Linked DNA regions of Homo sapiens. The protein of the gene in region 1 purifies or fractionates together with the protein of each later gene. This does not show direct contact. Each region holds a gene or a part of one and is shown on either strand. Other genes may lie near its edges.

What was found. Proteins that work in one complex are often made in the same cells at the same time.
Region 2: the proteins of POC1B (region 1) and HSBP1 purify together in Homo sapiens (affinity purification with mass spectrometry; 2 studies listed by BioGRID and IntAct, with this or other methods). This does not show direct contact.
Region 3: the proteins of POC1B (region 1) and TACC1 purify together in Homo sapiens (affinity purification with mass spectrometry; 2 studies listed by BioGRID and IntAct, with this or other methods). This does not show direct contact.

What each region holds. Positions count from the first base shown.
Region 1 is NC_000012.12:89,523,048-89,531,154, forward strand, and holds the start of POC1B (POC1 centriolar protein homolog B), read right to left. Parts: upstream 2,849-8,107; coding exon 2,834-2,848; intron 2,750-2,833; exon of another isoform or gene 2,523-2,749; intron 2,384-2,522; exon of another isoform or gene 2,158-2,383; coding exon 2,073-2,157; intron 1,750-2,072; exon of another isoform or gene 1,503-1,749; coding exon of another isoform or gene 1-1,502. Other genes in the region: POC1B-DUSP6 readthrough, read right to left, coding at 2,073-2,157, 2,834-2,848; POC1B-GALNT4 protein, read right to left, coding at 1-1,393, 2,073-2,157, 2,834-2,848; GALNT4 (polypeptide N-acetylgalactosaminyltransferase 4), read right to left, coding at 1-1,502.
Region 2 is NC_000016.10:83,811,200-83,818,976, forward strand, and holds part of HSBP1 (heat shock factor-binding protein 1), read left to right. Parts: intron 1-221; 3' UTR 222-7,777. UniProt on the Homo sapiens protein: Negative regulator of the heat shock response. Negatively affects HSF1 DNA-binding activity. May have a role in the suppression of the activation of the stress response during the aging process.
Region 3 is NC_000008.11:38,790,012-38,797,788, reverse strand, and holds part of TACC1 (transforming acidic coiled-coil-containing protein 1), read right to left. Parts: intron 1-7,777. UniProt on the Homo sapiens protein: Involved in transcription regulation induced by nuclear receptors, including in T3 thyroid hormone and all-trans retinoic acid pathways. Might promote the nuclear localization of the receptors.

The DNA.
Region 1 (8,107 bases):
TCTGTCACAGAATTAAACCTTATTTCTTTGTTTGAAGTATATTCAAAGAATTGATTGCCTCCTTGACCATGGCATCCAAACAGTGAAAGGTTAGCACCTGTGGGGTTGTTGTCAGGAGAATTATAATCTAAACATTCAGACGAGATCCCTCTACTGCGAATAGCCCCATGCCAGCCTGGTCTATCCTCTGGAACATGTAAATTAGGAAAAACGTTTTTCAAATACCAGTCAAAGCTCTTGCATCTCAACCGCTCTCGTAGTAATTTTCTTTCAGAAATATCACCATAAGCTTCTTTTCTTGCTGGAGGGTTTCTATTGTAGAAGTGCTCTTTGTATTCATCCATCCAAACTTCTGCTGCCCGAGCAGTATTCTGTAGGAAATTGGGGCGAGCATATGGTGCCCGCTTGGGGAACACATGGCCCACGTGGGAACACGGGTGGATCTCCAATTTGCCACCACACTGCCACACCCTAAAAGACAGCTCAAGGTTTTCACCTCCCCACACTTCCATTCCTGTGTCATACGTTCCAAGGTACTGAAAATATTTCTTGCTGACAGCAAACAGTCCTCCAGCCATGGTAGGTGATCTGATGGGGTCAATTCTTGATATCCGCCTGTCCCTTTCCTGTTTGGGGACAGAATGCCACTGAAATGTTAAACGCCAGTCAAACCCACCAATCATGGGCTCCCCTATCTGCATATAGAATTCAAAAGTATTCCAATCAATTGTGTCTATAACAGGACACACAACTGCTGTTTCATCTCTCCCAATCCTTTCCAAAAGCGGTTCCAGCCAACCGGAATTACACTCACAGTGACAATCCAGGAAAGTGAGGACGTCCCCAGTGGCGAAAGTGGCCCCAATCAGACGGGCCCTAACCAGCCCCTCTCGCTTATTGGTCCTAATCAAGCGTACTCTATCAAGATTGCTGATGTAAGTTTCAAGTTGTGTCTTCAAATAAACTCTGTCACTCAAGTCATCCACCAAGATGATCTCTTTCAAAAGAACTGCAGGAGAAGTTTCTAAAACACTGTGAATGGTACGGAGCAAAGTCGACCAGGCTTCGTTATAGAAAGCAATGATAACAGAGGTGGTAGGAAGTGTCCTATAGTTGAACTTCTGGGACTTACACTCATACATTCTTTTATCCTCTATGTGTCGATGCAGGGAAATCCTGTCACTGAGGTAAATATTGATGGCGTATCTCTCAATGAGTTCTTCTTGCTGCTTCAGTTCATCCTCGTTGAGCTGGAGTTTGCTGGCTTTCCCCCACTCCCCAAGTGCACGGGAATCTGCAGGGGGCTTCTTATAAAGCGGTCGAGACAAATCCTCCGTATTTTTCTGGAGGTCTGAGAGCCTTCTTGACCCCAGCTCCCTGGCACGGCCGGCTCCTGCGGAGGCATGAAAAGTAGAGACCAAGAGCTCCACGAAGATATAGGCCACTGTTAAAAACGCCAGCAGCAGGCAGCTCTTGCCTGCCCAAGTCCACCTCACCGCCATCCGGATTCTCAGGGCTGAGGCGCAGACGCGGCCACCAAGCCACCACGCAGGGGAAGGGCGGCGGAACCCACAGCTCGAGCTCAGGTACTTCCCAGCAGGTTCTTCCTTTCATGCAGGCGCTAGGCTCCTTTCCAGCCACCCAGGCTTTCCAGGGGTCACCTGAGCCCTCTCGGTCCTCGGCCTCCGGCACAGCCCAACTCCTCTCTCCCTACTTCCTCCTGCTCGGCTCACAACTTTTCACAAACTCTCCAGCCAACACCCCACCCTCCCCGGGCCGAGGAGAAACCCCTCCCCTTCCCACTCACTCCTCCTGGTGGTTAGTTTGCGAAAGTCGTCCGCCAGGCCCAGACCGCTGGATAGGAGGCTCTTGGCCGGGCCGGGGGCTGGGGGCCGGGATGGCAGAGGGGGCCCTAGCTGCGCCCCGCCGCGCTGGGCCCTCGTCTCCGGGTGCTCTCAACCCTCATACAGGCCCTTAGCCGTTCTCCTAGGGACCCTGCCCGGACAGGAGGAAAGGTTTCCGGCCCATGGAGTTTAGTCTCATTACAAAAGCAAAACAAGAATAAGACTTACCAAGTTGCTTGCCGTTGGGGCTGAGGTCCAAGGAGGTGATCGCAGCTTTGTGGCCTTTGAAATAACGCTCCAGAACGGGGTCCTCCTGGAAAGGAAAGTTGTCAAGTTTTGAAAGCCGCCGCAGACCTCGAATTCTGGCGGCTGGGATCCACGCTGCCACTTCCCCGGAGTCCGGCTTGGGAATGGCCACCCAGGCGGCGGCTTGGCTGGGCGGCGGGGCCGGGCAGCAGCCCACCCACGGGCGCGGCGCCCAGTCCTGCTACAGGGAGACGCCGGCGCCAGCTCTCCCCGCAGAGCCCGCAAAACGCTCTGTTCGCGCTTCCCAGAGTCCAGCGCATCGCAGGAACCGCGGCCCCTTTGAAATGCACGTTCCCGGGCCCCGCCCGCTGGCCCAAGGCAGGCAGGTGCGAGGATGCGCCTCGGCTTTGGTACTTTTTTTTTTTTTAATACTTCCTAGGTGATTCTGACGCAGGCGCTCCACGGAAACCCTCCGAGAATTCTGGGGGCCGTGGGGCCGCCCAGCTCAGTCCGGAGCTCCGGAACTCGGGGAAGAGCGTCCGGGAGCCGGGTCTGGGTTCCGCACTCCGTCCGCCCCGATGGCAGAGAGTGAGATACGGACGCCCCGGGACGAGGGGCTCAGGACCCGGCTACGGACACCTGCCTCCATCTCCCTCCAGGTGCGGCTTCGGCCCGGACCTGGCCCCGCAGCCCGCGGGACAGGCTCCAGGGAGGGACCCCCCCCACCTCCAACCCGTCCTTACCGTGGCTGAGGCCATCGGGGGAGTGGTCGGCCCAAGGCTCCTGTGGGTGGGGGAACCCGGAGAGGGGAGGGGAGAGGATGGGGAAGGAGAGGGGACCGTGCGGCTCCCGGAACCGTCTGCCCAGAGCGGCAGCGCCTCCCGGTCACTACAACAACGGCGGCCCAGTCAAACCCCGCGCTCCAGGCATGGCCAGCCGAGCCCCGAGACACCGCCAGCCCTGTAAAGAGAGGACGGGAGGTATGCGCCGGGTCAGCTGTGGCCACACACCAAGCCATGTTAACTAACACTCGCGTTCTCCCTGGTTTGATGTCAGGAAGTGGGGTAGTAACCAGGACTGGAATAAGAGCGATGAATGGAAGGGCGTTGTGAGCCTGTGATCGATGCGATCAGAGTTCTATTACGTTTTAAAGAGACAGCACCCGTGACGTTTAAGGTGATCCCCTACCGCTTATTTTGTTGACGTAAAGCTTTGACATGAAGAGGGGCAGCTTGCTAGTTATTAATATACTAAAAGGAACTAAATCCCCTGAGGGCAGATTTGAATTTATTTAACCACTGTTTTCCACACAGTGCCCTGCAGGATATTGATATAGTTGCTGGATGTGCGTGATGAATGAATGAGTGAATGAATGAATAAATGTTGTGCATGCACTTAATAATTTTCTGCGATATGTTTCCATTCTCATCTGCTTATTTGCGTATACCTTAGAGCACTAAACTTACACAGCTGGATACTTAAAGTCTTTAGGAAGACTTGGAAACATGGTTTTTTTTGTTTGTTTTTTGTGAGACCACGTTTCTACAGCAGGCTTTGTTACACATAGTATCATTTGTGCTTCAGCCAAACAATGAAGTTGGTAGAATTACAAAATGTTTTCAATGTTTCCAAGTTATAAACTTGATTCCTAGATATTGGTCTTAGAGGTCACACAGAGACAGTTCTTCTAATTCCAAGTCCATATCCTTTTTTTTTTTTTAACCCTGCCTCAAAGCGTGATGTTCTGAGCTGAAAATTACATATAGTGTAAAGATCCTTAGCAACATCAAAGGGCATGATAGAACACAGCTGGTAAGACATGTGTTTTATGCAAATGAAAGGTATGCTACACACCTTAATTACAGATTCCCTAGTTGTCTAGTGATTGAGTTTAATTTTATTGAATATGGTACTTAACAACTAAACAGGTAGGCTTTAGATTACAGTATTAGTTAATTTAAGTATACACTTGTTAAATATCTGTTGTATGTTTGGCCTTGAGGGACACAATGATGACTAAGATATTTCCCCTACCTTCAAGAACTCAGCAATCTAGGGTTGGTGAGTCTCATGCTTTAGCATTTGTAATGTTGATTTGGGGGCTCCATTTCCAGAGATGCTGAATCAACATATACAAGGTGGGATCCAGGGCCCTTCTGATGTAACAAGCTCCATAGATGATTACTATGGGAGTCTCAGCTGTCTATGTTGAGAAACACTGCATTAGTCTAGGAGATGATATGTTAAGAGTGTTGATATCAGCAACTTGTCAGCAAACTGTTGCAGGACTCTTAGTTTTGCTACATATTACCAGTTTAGGCTTGATTTATTTTAAAAGCCTGCCATGTTTAAAACTAATGCTGGATACTGGTGGGAATGTAAAATGATGTAGCTCTGTGAAAAAGTTTGTCAGTTCCTAAAAAGTTAAACATACAATTACCTTATAATCCAGCAATTTCACTGCTAGGTATATCCCATAAGTATTGAAAGCAGAGACTCCAACAGATGCCAGTGTTCAAAGCAAGCATTATTTACAATAGCCAAAAAGTGGATACAATCCTAGTATCCAACAGATGAATGGATAAACAAAATGTATGTGATATATACATATAAGGAAATATTATCCTGCCATAAAAAGAAATGAAATTGTGATACAAGCTATAACATGGATGAACCTTGAAAACATTTTGCTAAGTGAATAAGCCAAACACAAATGAGCATATATTGTATGATTCCATTCATATGAGGTACCTAGAATAGGTGAATTCATAAGGACAGAAAGTAGAATAGAGGTTACTAGGGCTGGGGGTAAGGGAGACTGGGGAGTTACTGTTTAATGGGTGCAGAGTTTCTGTTTGGGATGATGAAGTTCTGGAAATAGATAGTGGTGATGTTTGCACAACATTGTGAATGTACTTAATGCCAGTGAATTGTACACCTAAAAAATGGGTAAAATGGTAAATTTCATTACAGGTATTTCACCCCAATAATAAAATAATAATGCCAGAAGCTGAAGAGTAATCAGGACCTCAGGATTACTCATAGGTATGTTACGTCTAATATTGGGCACAGGAGAAGCAGAAAAGGGAAGAAGTTGGAGATTTAGAAACTAGCTCACAAGAAGAAAAAATATAGATTTTTATTTAAGTGTTTTAGTAAAAGTTTAGCTTTTACTTTTTTTCTCAATTATCAAGAAACACATGTTTTAAATTTAAAAGATGGGAGGGAAACTACATATTAATCCTATTACCTAAAGTTGATCTTAAAAAATTTGTCACCTACTGATATGGTTTGGATTTGTGTCCCCACCCAACTGTCATGTAGAATTGTAATCCCCAGTGTTGGAGGAGGGGGCTGGTGGGAGGTGATTGGATCATGGGGGTGGATTTCTCCCTTGCTGTTCTGAGTGAGTTATCACGAGATCTGGTTGTTTAAAAGTGTGTAGCACTTCCCCCTTTGCTCTCTTCCTCCTGCTCCAGCCATGGAGCAGCCATGCTCTCTTCCCCTTTGCCTTCCACCATGTTTGTAAGTTTCCTGTGGCCTCCCCAGCCATACTTCCTGTACAGCCTGCAGAACCATGAGCCAATTAAACCCGCTTTTTTTGTAAATTACCCAGTCGCAGGTAGTTCTTCATAGCAATGTGAGAACGGACTAATATACCTACCTATGTTTTCACTACATGCCAGGACTTTTCTAAGTACCTTACAAATTTTGACATTTAGTGATCATAACGATCTTATTAGAGATGTGCTATTATTACCATTTCCGTTTTATAGATGAGTAAATTGATATGCAAAGACATTAAGTTACTTGCCCAAGGCACACTGCTAACTAGGAAGTGGCAGAGTTGAGATTTTTAGACACTCGCAGTCTGCCTCCAGAATCCACTCTCTCTTTTTTTTTTTTTTTTTTGAGACGGAGTCTCACTCTGTCGCCCAGACTGGAATGCAGTGGCGCGATCTCGGCTCACTGCAAGCTGCTCCGCCTCCCAGGTTCACGCCATTCCCCTGCCTCAGCCTCCCGAGCAGCTGGGACTACAGGCGCCCGCCACCAAGCCCGGCTAATTTTTTTTGTATTTTTTTTTTAATAGAGACTGGTTTTCACCGTGTTAGCCAGGATGGTCTCAATATCCTAACCTCGTGATCCGCCTGTCTCGGCCTCCCAAAGTGCTGGGATTACAGGTGTGAGCCACCTCACCTGGCCCAGAATCCACTCTCTTAATCACTGTCATGACTTTTGTGTGATTGCAAGTGTTATGTAAATGTATAAAACATTGCATTCTTGCCAAGGTTTATAATAATAAGTTTTACAAAATGAAAGTAATATCTCCTTTATTTTCATTCCACTGTCCTCATTTATTACTCTAAACTGCCCTTCCCATTGTTCTTTTCCATAGTATTTGATTTTGTTCTTTTCGGCTTTTCTTCACCTTTGCAAATAGCAAAAGCTCAGAGGTAGACAATTGGAAATGTGGTCAAAGTTGGGGAAGTTTTTTCTAACCTCAAGCCTAATTCCACTTGCTACAATGATTATTTAGACCTCTCTGGACTGCAACCTAATCATTTATGTGGGTGGGAGCCACAAGCAGGATCAGTATTTAAAAACCTACAAGGTTTTACTGGAGGCCGGGTACTAGCTAGGACAAACTGACCTCTAATTAGCCCTTCTTATACAGTTCCCCCTAAAACAGAAATTGAATGTACTTACTTGAGCATTATAAAGAGTTATTTTTATTTTAGCACTGGTTCTTCCTTGGCCTTCAAATTTGGAAATTCAGCATAGTACAAAAGTGCCATCTACTGTTCACCTTACTATATAGCACTTGGAGTGAACATATTTTGAGCCTGTTTACAGGCAATGGAACTCCCTTGTTGATACACTTCCTCCAAAGTATAGGAGAGCACATGGAAAAGTACAAGATGGGTTTGAATCAATAATGAATTACATTTTTGAAAACTGCATGATTCATTTAAGTTAACATTCAGTCTCCAAGTCCTATCAACTACCTCCTCACCATATATATATATATAATATATATGATGGGCTGCCCAGGCTGGCCTTGAACTCCTGAGTTCAAGTGATCCACCTGCAGCAGCCTCCCAGGTAGCTGGGATTACAAGCATGCTCCTCATCATATATTTTATCTTCCTATCTTTCTGTCTAATGGCTCCTGTCACTCCACAGACCCTGCCTTCTGCCTCCTAGAATATTTTAGTAACCACCAACTTGCTTTCTGACTTCAAAACTTCTCCCCTCCACCTGTCCACCCTGCATTTACCAACAAATAACATAAGATTCACCAGGGTATCTTGCTAAAAGTAAATGTTTTTAGGCCTCACCCCAGAGGTTTTGATTTAGAAGGTCTAGTGTGAATACTAGAAATCTGTTTTCAAACAAGCTTTCTAGGTGATTATAATATGCATCAACATTTGGGAACCACTGGCATATCATGCCATAGATCTTTAAAATGCACTTTAAGTTCACTTTTAAATGCCTCAAACCAAGTCCTATTTTATATCTAACCACTCATCTCCCCTGGGCCAATCCTTAAGCCATTGCAGTTAACCACACACACCCACCCTTTGGAGCCTTTGCTAGAGCGGTTTCTGTACTCATGAATGCCTGTGCTACTCTCTTGCTCCAACTTCTACACAAAGAAACATACCTCAGGACTTGGGAAGATATGTTCATGTAAAATCATCTTTCTCTGAACCTATTCCTCCTTATAAAAATAAAACATTATTTTTCCTTTGGGTCCTGATGGTATGAAACTTAGAGTTCTTTTTAGCACTATTTTATGTTGCTGCCTTTACATCTACATCATGTTTATGTGTCTATCAGCACTTAACTGTAGTGAAAGGTCAGTAAAGATAAGAACTGTGTTCTACTCATTTTAGTATCACTCTACAGGCACCACAATCCCTGACACATAGTAGGGGCATAATAAACATTTTCTGCATTGATTGAAAGATGACAGTGTGGCTGGCCAGCTCTATAGTTACTGAAAAAGTCTACAA
Region 2 (7,777 bases), on another chromosome or scaffold:
AGTGATGGGGGTCATTCAAAGAAAAGAGTGGGAGTAGGAAACTGACTCTGAAACTTTTAAAGATATTTCCAGTTAAATCTATTGCTAAAATATTGCCAGAAGAAAATAAGTTTAACTCAGTAGGAGAGTGGAAAGGGATTTGTAGTTGATAGGTCTATATGTCATTTTTACTTGTGCTCATATAATGAAAAACATGTTGATGATTTTTCCTTCTTCAACAGGTTGCTAATAATTTATACTGGAATCTGGCATTTTTCCAAGCCAAGAGAAGATCGAATGGCTTTTTGCAGCTAACTACTATGTGTAGACAGGTTTTATATTATAAAGTATGCATTCTTATCACCTAGTATATAGTTAGTTTGTAGAGTGATTTCCCCCCAGTTTCTTGAACATGGTATCTTCACATCTTGGACCTTGGTCAGTTGTGCTATTCATTATTAAACACTAAAACTTTGGCGGTTCTTGCATAACATTGTCAGATTTTTTAGTGTATTTCTGTGAAGTCATTTTTTTTCTTGTCATTCCTTTTGTAGTAGTTGCTGTTTGGATAAAAGTTGATGTGTGATTTTTTATTAAACAAATAGTAAACCCTTCAATTATAGTTAGTCTTGGTGAAGTAAGATGTTTGTAGACTTTAGAGTTCTTTAATTCTTGGCACAACGTGACTGTTGAGCTAACACCAAATAGTGTGTTGGCAATACTTTTCAAATGGCTGAAAACACCTAAAAATTGTTCATTCAGAAATATCTGTCACTGCTCTGTTGCCAAAACTCAGAATAGAACTTAGACGTATGTCTGAGTCCCTGAGATCACATGCTAAAGTCGATGAAAAGTAACCACTGCCACTGTCTTGTGTCAGAACTTTTACAGTACAGAAAATAACAGAATAGCCTTCTGTAATGAGGCGTTTGTTAGAGTTTTGCATGAGATTCTAATACTTCAGTAGGACCCTACCTACGTGGTTCATCTACAATGGTTACCATAAAAAATCTGGCAGGATTTTAAAACTCAATCAGTCTTTCCTTTGAGCTAGTGACTTGAAAAGAAAGAGAGAAGGAAAAGAGACCATATTAAGTCCATGCCAGTTGCTTGGCTAGAATATGATCAACGACTTGTAGTAGACTCAAGTTTTTAAAAAACACTATTTTACTTAAACTGTTTCTTATCTAAATTCTTGCAGAGTGTCAATGTTATCATTGATTATAGAAGACAGGGATAATACCTTTATCTCTGGCCACTCAAAAATGCAGTGCCAGGAGTGCTAAACCTAGAGGCCAATACTGATGACCTGGAAGGTGATCCATATGATTGTCACCACAAAGTGCTTTTACACAAAAACTTGAAAATTTGAAAAACATGATTTTTTTAAGTTTCTCATCTCACCAGTCTTGGTGTTTATATTGCAAATCTATCAAAGTAAGAAATAATTTGTGCTGTATACAAATTACATGGGGAACATAAAGGAGTGAGATCCTTCTGTGATAAAATGAATTCACCACTCTGGTTACCCAACTACAGAACCTCCTTTGATCAGGCCAGTAGGTTGTGATGCAGGCTGGAGCCCCCGAATGCCCCACACACACTGCAGCATTGACCAGACCATCCGAAACCTGCGTCCCTGGTGATGTTCTCAAGCCTCGGAAGTGGCAAATGGAAATGATATGGCCGGTTGCGGTTGTAGGAGAGTTGTGACTTAGGCAGGAGTCGACCTCCTCAAGTAATGGAACGATTTCAAAGGCAGGCTGCCCTGACCAAAAATATCTGCCATGAATAAAGGTGCCTGAAATCCTGCTATGAAGCTTCCTTTGTGTCAAAAATCTGTTTGGTTTTCAGATGGAAATGCAGAAATCACATTAGAGTATCAACTAAAACCTCTGGACGGATTAAGTACAAGTAGCCCAAGGCAAAGCAGGAGAGGGGGTGTTGGGGGAGGTTGCCTGCTGGAAGGGGAAGCTGAGGAGCGGGAGGAGGGCTTGCCAAGACTGGCATTGCAGGAGACTTGTCTCAGGTGTGTTCCCAGAACTCTTGCCCCTGGAGATGCTGCAGGAAGGAAGGGGTTATGGTCACTTGGGTTTAGACGACATTCTGTGAACCTCATGAAGAAATTAGCATATTAAAGACTCTGAAAGTAGAGCAGAGAACTCAGCTTTAACCTGCTCACCTGCTAGTTTTCGAGGTCTCGCTCTGTTGCCCAGGCTGGAGTGCAGTGGCACAGTCATAGCTCACTTGGAGCCTGAAGCTCCTGGGCTCAGGCAGTCCTCCTGCCTCAGCCTCCCAAGTAGCTAATATTACAGGTTCGTGCCACCGCACCTGGGTCTTGCTGTGTTGCCCAGGCTGGTCTAGAACTCCTAGGCTCAAGCAGTCCTGTCTCAGCCTCCCAAAGTGCTGGGATTACAGGCTGGAGCCACCATGCCTGTCCAAGGGTCTTTTTTATACTATATGAAGTATTCCTTCTCCAGCTATTCTTGTTCGTTTACCAGCCAGTGAAGATTCTCTTGAGGGCTGAACAATACAGATGAGTATGGGGGCCCTCGCACCAAGGAAAACAGCGTTACATTTAATTAAGTGCCCTGTCTCAAACCCCAAGGCCCCACAGCTTCTTCATTTGGCCCCTAGTTCATCCTGCTTTCCTTTGAGCCACAGGATTTTAAAATATTTCAATCTTATTTTCATATCAATTTTTTCTTTGTTTCACTACAAGTACAGTCATTGTTTAACCCTATCAGGACTAACACAATATTTCACGTAACTAAGAGTTAATTTGCCCTTGTGAGTCCTTGGAATTTAAGCCCCACACACACACACTTAGAGCACTGTTGCTATGGGAACATAGAGTCCTCCAAACAAAAGTGAACTTTTTCAACATGCTGTTTGTAAATGGAAGCCTTCCCAAGCAGACACTGTGTTCCTCTTTTATTTTGTATTTTGCACATTATATATTTTGATTAGATTAAAATGGAGGAATTTGCAGGATGTGTTGTCATATCTAGCCCTGAAAGTTAACTGGTTACAGTTACCAAATGTTCACAGCTAGCGCCATTGAAAGCATTGACTGTAAACCGCTGTACTGTGCTAAGCCTTTTGTTTGCACTGTTTGGCTTAATCCTCACAACAACACTGAGAGGTTTTCATTTGATGAGTCATATTTAAAGAAAAGGAACCCAAGACGGGGAGTCAGGGGCACAAGGTCACAGCTGGTAATGATGACCCTGGAATGTCCTCACAGCTGCACACCTGCACCGCTCACAAACACAGCTGACCGTCTCACAGCTGCACACCTGCACCGCTCACGAGCACAGCTGACCGTCTCACAGCTGCACACCTGCACTGCTCACGAACACAGCTGATCGTCTGCCTCTTCGTGTGAGCTGAGCTCCGAATCTCAGCTGTCCAGGCTGTCTGGAAATCATCAGCCCCACTGGCTGGATCTCAAAATTTACTTTCAAAAGGCTGATGGAGTGTTTTCAATTAAACATGACCTAAAATTAAGTAATAAACACACTGGATGTGAGTTTTTATTTGGAATTTAAACTATTCAGAGCTGGTAGAAAATGTGTGCTCCTGGATCAGTGCCTTTTTTCTCCTAAATCAGTTGAGAACAACAACAGAAACAAATGACATTCCTCAAACATTTGCCCAGAGCACAACCACGGGGAATATGAACCACAGGTTTTCACATTGGTTTTCCATGCCTATACCTGTCCTGTCTCCCACAAAAATTATTGCTTGAGGCCCAACCCGGGGGATAAAAAGACACCCCCCCGCCACTCCGTGACCTATTAGCTTACCATCCTATTGGATTTCACTGTTTTTTGTTTTGTGGTGTTTTTTTTTTATTGCAACGAAGACTTTTAAATGGACTCATGAAGAAGCCATCACCTGGAATCTTAATCTTGCATTAATTTTAAGTGTCTGATTTTAGCTGCAGCCACTTGAGAACTTTTCAATGAATGAAAATGAGGGAGGGGAGATGCAAGTCACTGCCCAAAAACAAAACCAGAGGAATTGTGATTGAACATTGCACTTATCAACCCTACAAATTAATATGGAAATAGGAAAAGGGTTTGTTTCAACAAGTCAGGATGACAGTATTTTAAAAAAGAAAAAAAGGCCAGCCTGGGCAATATACTGAGACTCCATCTCTACAAAAAAGTAGAAAAATTAGCCCAGAGTGTGGTGGCACACATCTGTGCTCCCAGCTACTCAGGAGGCTGAGGTGGGAGGATCATTTGAGCCCAGGAAGTCGAGGTTGCAGTGAGCTGTGATCGGACGACTCCACTCCAGCCGGGGTGACAGAGCAAGACCCTGTCTCAAAAAAAAAAAAAAAGGGCGGATCCTAACGCTTGGTCCTCACACCTGAGGCTCTCACTAAGAGGTGGCTGGAAGCTCCTCAGACCGCTGCCTAGGGTTCGAGTGATCCTGAAAGCTGTACAACATCAGCCTCTGTGGGATCCCTGAGAATGATGAAATGTAATATGTGGCTGTCTCATCAACAGAGCTTCATTTTACCAAAGCATATGTAGACACCACATACATGAACTACATACCTATCGTGTAGATGCTGCCCTGCCTCATAAGAACACTCTTGACTGTCCTGCTTCACAATAATAATCTTCGCAATAATGATCTAATAATGGTCAAATTCTGTGTCTCTACCGTAGAAAACAGAATTTGACCATTTAGTCACGTTGGTCTTGCAAAATGTCCACCTTCCAAAAGAGAACAGTATTGCTTCCCAATAATTAAGAATAGTCTGGATTCAGGATCCAGCAGCTTAGAAGCGTTTAGCTACCAATAGCAAAAATCAGCCCTTTTAACAATGGTGGGATGTATTATTTCACATGGCAAGAAGTCCCAAGGGAGGGCAGCTCTGGGGCGAGTAAATTCTGCACCTCAGTAAAACTAAGAGCAAGACCCGGCCGGGCGCAGTGGCTCATGCCTGTAATCCCAGCACTTTGGGAGGCCGAGGTGGGTGGATCACCTGAGGTCAGGAGTTCTAAACCAGCCTGGCCAACATGGCGAAACCCCCGTCTCTACTAAAAATACAAAAATTAGCCAGGCGTGGTGGTGGGCGCTTGTAATCCCAGTTGCTCGGGAGGCTGAGGGAGGAGGATCGCTTGAACTCAGGAGGTGGAAGTTGCAGTGAGCCGAGATCGTGCCACTGCACTCCAGCCTGGGTAACAGAGCGAGACTCCATCTCAAAAAATAAAAAACAAAAAAATAAATAAAAAATAAAAAGACCCAACCCCAGATTTGTTCCACCTGGGTGCATCCGGTCAGAGAATGCCTTTCTTCTTCCCTTTTGTCTCCTAAGAGTGAAGAAAATGTTTCTTTGAAGGTGTTTCCACCCCACTCCTGTGCCTAAAATGATCCTGGCAAACAGGACCCGCATGATAGGTTGAGCCATGTGGTTCTTGTTTTTTTGTTGTCACAACTCAGGTTGGGGGTGTTACTGGCATCAAGAGTGTAGAAACCAGGGATGCTGCGTCAACACCCTACCATGCACAGGACAACCCTCACCCCAAAGAGTGGCACAGCCCCAAGTGTCAACAGTGCTGAGGTTGAGGAATCCCAGCTTAACCCATTCATGAGACCACCTGAGCCTGGTGTAACGGTTCTGCTGATAGTTTCCGGACCCTCAGAGGTGGAGACATAAGAGAACAATACCAGGGTTCCATCAGAAAGGAAATCAGAATGGCTATCGGGTGGACAACCTACAGTGTTTGCTACAGACCTTCTAGATGTAACTTCTAGATTATAAACACTGGTAACACTGGAGATGGTTAAATCGGAATTAGCTGACTGTCAACCTTGGTGGCACATTAGAATCACCTGGGGAGCAGTTCAAAGGCCCAAAACTGGGCAGCACCACAGAACCCTCACATCAGAATCCCCATGGGTGGGCCCAGACAGCAGTGTTCATCTTAGACTCCAGTGTGCAGTCGAGGTCGAGAACTGCATTCAAGAAGGCCTGTCTACTGCGAACCGTCCGATGATGTAATTCACCAAGTTCCATGGGATTCCGCCACGCCCGTGTCAACCCAGCTGACACGTCCAACTTGGACAATCAGGGCTTTGACCCCCGTTACCTGGCATTCAATTCAATCCATGTGTCACGCATGCCCCAACAATTTGTGTCCCAACTGTTTGAATCAAAGGATTTCTGATTCCCTGATGGGTGATGACTCAGTAACCGGATTCAGCTTCAGATCTGCCTGACATTTTTCCTGCCTGTCCTGGGCCAGGTATGGCGCTAGCTGCTTTCACCTGTATCATCTCATTCACTGCTCAGAGGCTCTCGAAAGCTGTTGACATTATCAAAAAGTTTTCCAGCTGGAATTCATCTCCCTCTAATCAGCCTTCAAAACCTCCATTTGTAAACCATTGCTGTAGTTTTATTACCTCTTACCTTGGTCTTTACAAGTTGCTGTCAAAACCCAGTAAGTGTTTACAGAAAGAAACTTTACATATTAAATATCTTAAAGGTCTTTTATGCAGAATATGCAGTTAATTTTGATGGGCTATGGATAATCATCAGAAGAGCCATTTCTGGAAATGTAAATAATATGGCTGTTTCTTTTAACAGTGCATTCTCCTGAAAACATAAGACCATTTGACTGATTCTGCTCCAGAATCTTATTGAGGCAAAGGACTGGACCGAATTATTCATGGAACAGAAGCCTAGGACTGGTAAGTCCAGGAAATGCTGCAAAACAATGCCCTCAAAAGAAATCAGCCTTTCCCTTTGATAGGTATCTCTCCTGCAAGCCAGGCTCAGGTGCGCCTCAATTAGAACCTGTGTTCGCTGGGGCCATAATTAAGAATCTTAAAGGGAAAGAATGTTTTGAAAGCCATCTGTCAAAAGTACGCAGTCTTGCTTGTAGAATTTTAGAGGTTCATGGTTACCGTGGGTCGGCACTGGGTCTGTGAGCCCTCATCCCCAGGGCTCGGTTTCCTATCAGAATCCTTGTCTGGAAGGTTGATTATATCAGATGCGCATTTTGCCAGCATCCTCAGAAGGAGATGCGAGGAAGATTCTTTTCCTGGGCCACTCTCATTTTCTCAAACTTGGACAAGTCTTAACAATAATCTGTGACCCAACTTTGTCTTCCCCATGATGAAAAACAGACCCCATAGAAACTCTCTGGCACAAAAACTCTGGAATCACTGACCCCAGACATTGTTCCCTGCCATCCACTCTGCCAGACATTTCTTGGATTTATTCAAGCTGACTTGTATTCCAGAACAATTGTGGACAAGATTTGCTAGTAATGCTTCCAACAAGTTACCGTTTAGCAAGTTCAGAACTTGAAGAATCCCTTTTATCCTAACGCTGACTAATAAACTGGTGAGAACTGTTTGAAATACCCATAAGTCAATGGAGGTCGTAATTTGCTTTTATGCTGTATTAAACACCACTGAGATGTTAAGGTCTTTCTTGGGAACCACCGTGATGTTCTCTTCTGGACTCTTCGTAACCCCTTCAGCAGACGACCCTGTATCTGGTCTTGGTTCTGAAAGGTTTGCAGCGGCACCTAAGTCACTGAAGTTCTGGCAGAATTCATTCTCCTGCTCTCTACTGGGACTTGTTTTCCATAATTGGTCTGAGAACAACAGATTTTTTTCTTTTTTGCCTCGGATTTCAACAAAACATACATGGAAAGAATATTTTCTTCCTTGGAGACATTTCCCATAGGGCAGTGGTTCTTAAAATACGTTCCTGAACCGGCAGCATCAGAATCCCCTGGGAACGTGCTGGAAATGTAGATCCCCAGGC
Region 3 (7,777 bases), on another chromosome or scaffold:
GCTCCTGTGCAGAGATCTGGGATTGTGTAACTTCAATCTGTTGCTGCCAAACAACCATAATGTGCATCTCTTCAGAAATAATTACTGGAAAATTCAAAATACCAACTGCCTCTCTCACAAAGTAGCAACCACCCACATGGAGCTGAGAAGCTGATGCTGGATAAAGAAGAAGAGGGAGGAATGTTCAGCAAGAGAGGGGCCTCCAGACAGAGCAATCTCAGCCAGCATGCTGGGTGCATGAGACACATCCATGGCAGGACCACAAGCCAATAGGCGGCTATATAATTTCTTCAGCCAGTTCTGCTCCTGTTTAAGAAAGAGGGCAGCAAGAAGGAGTGGGGTTAGGAAGGGCATAGTGAAGAGACGCCAAAGGAAGAAAGCAATGGGAAAAGCTTTGCCATCTAAGAATGTATACCCTTGTATATCCTTTCATGCAAGTTTTTTAAAAAGTGGAAAAGGGCTTTGTGGTAGCCAGCCTCCAAGACGGCCCCTATATGTCTCACCTCCTGGTACACATGCCCTTGGACTGACCTGTGTAACCAAAAGGATACTGTGGAAATAAGTGTGACTTTTGAGGCTAAGTCACAGAAGACTCTGCAGTTTCTATCTTGCTTGCTCTTGGATCACTCACTCTGGGGCAGCCAGCTGCCATGCTGTGAGGATACTCAAGCAACCCAGCAGTGGTCCACATGGTGAGGACTGCAGCCTCCCACCAACAGCCAGCACTCACAGCCCAGGCAAATGAGTAAGCCGCCTTAGGAGAGGATTCTTGAGCCTCAGTCAAGTCTTTAAACAACTGCAGTCCCAGCCGACATCTTGACAGCATTCTCAAAAGTGACCTGAGCCACACCACCCAGCTCCCAAATTTCCCAACTACAAAGACTATGTGAGATGTTCGTTGTTTTCAGTTTTGGAGTAATTTGTTATGCAGCCAGAGATCACCAACAAAGGCCTCTTAAAAACTCCTCTATCTACCATAAAACAGGCGCAGAGCCCCTGGCAGCCGCACACACCTCCACACACCTGCCTCTTCTCAACCATGCATGACTCAGGTGGAGACAGAATGCAAAGGCTAGTACTGAATTTGTCTACTCCTTCTTTATTTTTCACTGATGAGCTGAAGCTAGGCATTGAGGAAGCAAAATGTTTTCAATCCCACTGCACTTATCCAGTGATGATTTTTGCTTGACTATTAATTTATATCTAAATCATGCTGCAAGCTTCCAAACTTCTGATGTTTCAACTTCCTAAAATACATTTCATACTTCAGAATAATATGTGCCAAGTTCACACATGTGGAAGATGTATTTTTTGATTTTTTAAACTACTATCACATGACAGGATACTTAAGACGATGCTTTCCCCCATCACACACCCTGCTCTGGCAACATTTTAAGACCCTTTATTTCCTCTGATATGTCTTCTCTTCAGATAGTGAACAACAGAGAGGGATTCACAAATTTCCTGGAGAGAAAAGCTGTATAATATGTTCCAAAGAGCTCTGGATCTGCAATCTTAAAAGCTGAATTCAAAACCCAGGTCCACTACTAGCAGTAAAGGCTCTGGCCTCAATTTCCCAATCTGTGAAATGGAAATCACTTGTGTCCTATCTCGCAGAATCATGGTCATAAAAATCAAACAAGATGCTGCAAACAAAGATTACTTGTTCCCAACACATCTAATAAATAAATACGGCTGAAACAGATAGCTGGTGATCTGCTAGGTGGGAATATTGTAATGGGAAAGCTGGAGATCAATCATTTATTGTCATATTTCCAGCTATGATATAAGAAAGAGGGTCCTCGACTGGCTAGGAGAGTATCTGCATCTGCCAAACTGTCAAGATACATTTTTCATTTGTGAATTAATAAAATACTCCATGCCATTATTATTATTCCCTTGTGAGTCTGGCCATCATCAATCTAAACCCTGGGGATCTAATCATGTTTGTTTGAACTCATAAAATTAGGTCATGTACATGCAAAGGTGAGGGTGAGATCTTGAACTCACAAGTAGCAAAGCCTTTCTAAGCCCAGATTTAATAGTCACCAGGCAATTTAGCAACCTTGGTTATGAAATCTCCACTGAGAGGGTTGTTTTGGGTGGATAAACCATTATCTCCCATCGCTACTCTGGATTTAGGAGAGTGTGACAAAATGGTTTATACCCTCCAAGATTTCCTCTGGGCAGTATAACTGGTAACCTGAAAAAGACACTGCAACTGCTCTTTCATTTAAATGTTTAAATGGCTTTAGGCCACATCCATTTTGTAGGTGGGACATTACATGGCAGCAATATAATTTTAGAAGGACTGCCGGCTCCCAAAACACATACACAGGTAGAAAGTGTCTCTGCCACCCGCAAGTACCAAAGTAAGTTCTACTGCTTTATTCGATGCTTGGGTAAGCCCAAAATGGGGGAGTGCAAGGTCTTGATTTTGTCACTCATCTTAAAAGAAAAATTGTGATTTGATAGTTACTAAAATCTTTCCTTTCTGCAGGTAGACTTTGCTTCCCTGCCCTGGAATTTTTTATTCAGACACTGTTGCTCCTCTGTGGTTCTGCACTCTCACAAGTTTCTGCTGGAAAAACTACACTTTTTTCCCCAGGAAGACACTCCCTTGGGTAAGGCACCATATAGAAGCAGGTGCTTCCTAGGGGCACATTTACATTGTGATAGAGCAACAACAACAAAAAAACACATGACTCTGATCTCATTTATTAGCTGGTTGGAATCTCCAACTTCAGAGCTAAAAATACATGAAAAAACAAAGTAGCTATATCATGCTAAGATTTTCAAGCTTTAAATACCTTAACATGGAATTATACAGTACAAAAAAATCAAACTGTGGAAGAGGCAATCACAGCAAAACATTAAAAATTTAAAATTAAATTAAAAGCATTAGGCTGCGATGCTGTTGAAGGAGCCACATGGGTTGGACTGCTGGACTAGGTAATATGAAAGGTCCTAATTAGTCCCATTATTTCTAGGAAACTCTAATAAAGCATTCCCTTGTTGGAGCAGGGAAAGGATGTTAAACTAAATCCTTAGGAGGATATACTTGTAGACTTGAATGGAACACTTCAATATGTACCTAATGAAAATTTTTCACATAGTATCTGATTAAACATATAACTCAAAGCTTTAGAATAAAAAATCAAAGCCTCTGATTTTAACAAGGTTTCCATGCTGTGTTTTCTATAGCACGCACACACACACACACACAAACAAACACACACACACGTGCAGTCTAAAACATTCTAAAAATACACCATATCAACCTTTTAAGAGATCTGCACAGTCAACTTACAAATTCTCATACACCCGAAGTTACATTAAAGACATTTAATGGGTTGGGTGAGGCTGGCTCATGCCTGTAACCCCAACACTTTGGGAGGCCAAGGTGGGAGGATCACTTGAGCCCAGGAGTTCGAGACCAGCCTGGGCAACACAGTGAAACCCCATCACTATTTTTTTAAAAAAAATTTAAGAAAATAAAATGTTAAAAAAAATTTAATGGGCAAAAGTTAAAAGTCTATGTGTTTGTACTTCTATTAAATGATTCCAATATTCTCCCCATTCTTCCCTAATTTCCTTTTTAAATAATTTTTATTCCTCCTTAGATCTTTGAGTCAATTGAAAATCAAGTTCATTGCAGACCAATTACATCACTTCCCCTTTGCAAATATGACAAATAGCCAGGCCACATCAGGCTCTCCCCTGGGCCTTCCCTGAACATGCAGGCCTAGACTAATGGCACCTCACGCCCACAGTTCATTTGTTCAGCAGGTATAACCTTGCACCTTTTCATTCTTAAAGCCATTTTCCCAAATTACTTAAACTCTGTATTTTTACTGAAATTGTAATAAGTATAGATGTAGGTTGACATTTTTTTTCTGTACAAGATAGTAAATATGTTAGACTTTTGCCAGACATTTGGTCTCTGTTCCAAGTACTCAACCCAGCTATTGTAGAGCAAAAGCAGCCATAGACAATACATGAATGAATGAGTATGGCTGTATTCCAATAACTTTATTTATGGGGATGACAGTGGTGGTTCAAACCTGAAATCCCAGCATTTTGGGAGGCTGAGGTGGGAGGATCACTTACTTGAGCCCTGGAGCTCAAGATCAGCCTGGGCAACATAGCAAGACCCCATATCTACCAAAATATATATTTCATATATATATAACTTGATGGGCCCTGAAATTTTGTTTTGTTTTTTTTTAAGAACTACTTTATTGAGATATAATTCACAAACCATACAGTCCACCCTTTAAAATATATGATGCAATGGTTTTTAGTAAATTCACATAATCGTGTGACCATTGATGGGCCCTGAAATTTGGATTTCACATTATTTTCACACATCACCATTAAACCATCAAAAAATGTAAAACTCATTCTTCTGTTCAGGGCCATGCAAAAAAACAGGACAGGCAGGGCTTGGTCTATGAGTCACAGTTTGCTGATTCTGATCGAGACTACCAAAATTGTGTCAACAAACAACTTGGCATTCCCTCACAGGCCTGAGGCAGTAAATATCTGTGCACAGATCCCATTTATCTCTTTTCTTCTATTCTGGGGAAAAGTCCAGAGAACTACAGTTTGTGTTTGAAATACCTAGGCATTTAATTAACACATCAAACTGGAGAGGTTTAACGAGTTGTTCCAAGGGTGATGTGAGAGCTTCTACACTAATTAAGATTCTCTTTCTCAGAGAGAGGTAACAATCTGTAGATAAAGGTGTGTGTGTTTGGGGAAGGGGGGCTATGTTGGTGAAGGAGAAACTCAAGGGGCAGAGGGCACCCACTGCAGTTTTTGTGACTGAAACAGCTACACAAAGCCACAACCCCTAAGTCCTCCATAAACACACATGCAAACACAAAAGCCAGGCATGGTAGCTCACGCCTGTAATCCCAGGACTTTGGGAGGGTGAGGCAGGAGAATCCCTTTAGGCCAGGAGTTCGAGATCAGCCTAGGCAACATAGCAAGACCCTATCTCTACAAAAAATAAAAAAACTGGCCAGGCGTGGTGGCTCACGCCTGTAATCCCAGCACTTTGGGAGGCCAAGGCGGGCGGATCACGAGGTCAGGAGATCGAGACCATCCTGGCTAACACGGTGAAACCCCGTCTCTACTAAAAATACAAAAAATTAGCTGGGCGTAGTGGTGGGCGCCTGTGGTCCTAGCTACTTGGGAGGCTGAGGCAGAAGAATGGCGTGAACCCAGGAGGCGGAGCTTGCAGTGAGCCGAGATCGCACCACTGCATTTCAGCCAGGGCAACAGAGCGAGACTCTATCTCAAAAAACAAAACAAAACAAAAAATTAGCCAGGCATGGTAGTGTGTGCCTATAGTCCCAGCTACTCAGGAGGCTGAGGCAGGAGGATCATCTGAGCCCAGGAGTTGGAGGCTGCAGTAAGCTATGATCATACTACTGCACTCCAGTCTAGACATAGATCCTGTCTCAAAGCAAAACAAAACAGAGGATGAACTTGAGATTGTACCTCCTCAAAAGTCCATTCCTAGAGGATGTTTCTTCACCAATATATTTCCCAGCAAAGAGAAAGACCACCACAACAGCAGCAGCATTAAACAACTTTAGTGGGAGAAAACAGACAGATAGCAAATACAGACCAGCCCAAGCTTTACAGCTACCAGTCTGGTTATTTCCAGGAAATATCTTTAGCTAGAGTTTTATTTTACCAGTAAGCCTAAAACCTGCTTCTATATGTGGCTTCAAAAAAAATCTACAACCTTATCCGCCACTTAACTCCTGGCATACAACTCTTAGGAAGAGTCATTATAGAGTTTAGATACTGCAAGTTCCTAAAGCAGTTCCAGTATAAGAAAAGTCATTTCAAAATAGTCTTAGATGTTTCCCTGAGTTCAAAGAACTATACAGAAGTCAGCACAGGAGCCATGGGTATGGTAAATGTAGCCCACACGTTTGAGGGCCATTATGTACCAGGAAGCCAGAATGTTTACATATTTCAACTCCAACTCCTGACTAACTCCTCGTAAATCATTCTTCCAGAATGATTTAGTCTTATATAATTTATAACTGCGGTCCAACCATGTCTTGGAACCACAAAAGTATGAAAGACTATCTTTACCAGGAACAAAACAATCAATAATTTTGGGAGAAAGGGAACTTATCCAGTCCCAGAAATTAAACTTCAATATGAAATGACTCTGAAGGGCTTTCTGCCCACTGAAATCCTCTCCAGGCAGACCTGTGCTCTGGCTGTCTTTGCACATTTGCTGTGTATGTGTGACAAGGCCATTGGCGGTACTCTGGACTAGCTCCGGATGTTGCACCCAAGGACCCTGGAAGTCAGGGTACGACCAGGTTGATGAGCAATCATCCTATTGTTTAAAGACCCTAAACTGAAAGCCTTCATAATATGCAGGGTTGTTTCCTGGACTGGACACTCCTCTACCCCTACAATTACAGTCTGCATTCATGAACTACCCCATAGAGCCTTCATGATCCATAAACATTTAAAAGTTTTCCTTTTAGAGAGAATGAAAAAAATGTGAGAGTCACTGGTACAGGAAGGACCAAACAATTGGGTCTCTGTGGTTTTGGGGGCCTAGGTCATCCAGGCCTCTATTCAATTGGCAAAGAATCTGGCGGGATGAATCAGTCTAGCAGCTGACAAAACGATGAGGAAGGGCCGCCCAAGCTGATGGCAATTCAAAAAGGCTTTCAAACAGCTCCTTAACATGTGTCTTATGAGCTTTATTTAAATTTGATGGAAAGGCCACCAAATAGTTCTTTCAAGCTTCAAAATCTCCCTTCTGATCTGCCAATCTTTACGGAAGAAAAGGGAAGCTATGAGGAATAAGTGTTATCTTCATCACTGAGAGTGCTACACAGCTATGCGTCGCACACAAATTCTCCAGTATATAAGCTTGCCTATTCCCATGTTGTCCCTGCCTAGAACAATGGCAAAATGCAGCCTAGGGCAAGTTGAGGGTATTGCTGAATTCTCAGCTGGGTAAGCACAGCATGGAGCTATCAATTTAAAGCAAAACCAAATCAGCTTTTTGCTGATGTCATTTTACCAATAATTCCAGCTCCATCATGCAGTCTATTACCAGAGTAACTTGACTTCCCTAGGCAACCTACGAAGAAGTTGCTAAGCAATAAAAATACTTATTAGGGAGAGGAGAAAGTCACAATCAGCACAAAGTTTAGGTAGCTAGATAACTGAAAGCTGGCGCTGCCACTTCAGGGTGACAGTGCCAGATACTGGAACAGAGAAACCACATAAAAAGGACTTCCATCCTAGAGTCCCTTCTCCACACAGCAGCCCAGGGAGCCTTTTACAAAAGAAGCTGAATCACAATCCCTCTGTTCAAAGCTCTCTGTTGTGGGCTGAATTATGTCTCTCAAAATGATATGTTAAAGTCCCAACTCCTAGTACCTATGAATGTGACCTTATCTAGAAATAGTATCTCTGAAGATGTTACCAAGTTAAGATGAGGTCAAACTGGATTAGGGTGGGCCCTAACTTCAACGACTGGTGTCCTCACAGGAAGGGCACGGTAAGACAGATACATAGGGAGAAGATGGCCATGTGTTGAGACAGAGACTGGAGTTCTGCTGCCACAAGCCAAAGAACACAAAGGATTGCAGACACCCAGCAGAGGCTAGAAGAGGCAAGGACAGACTTCCTGGAGCCTTCAGAAGAGCAAGGCCCTGCCAACACCTTGACTTGAGACTTCTGGTTCTGATTTCAATTATCCAGGACTGTGAGAGAATAATTT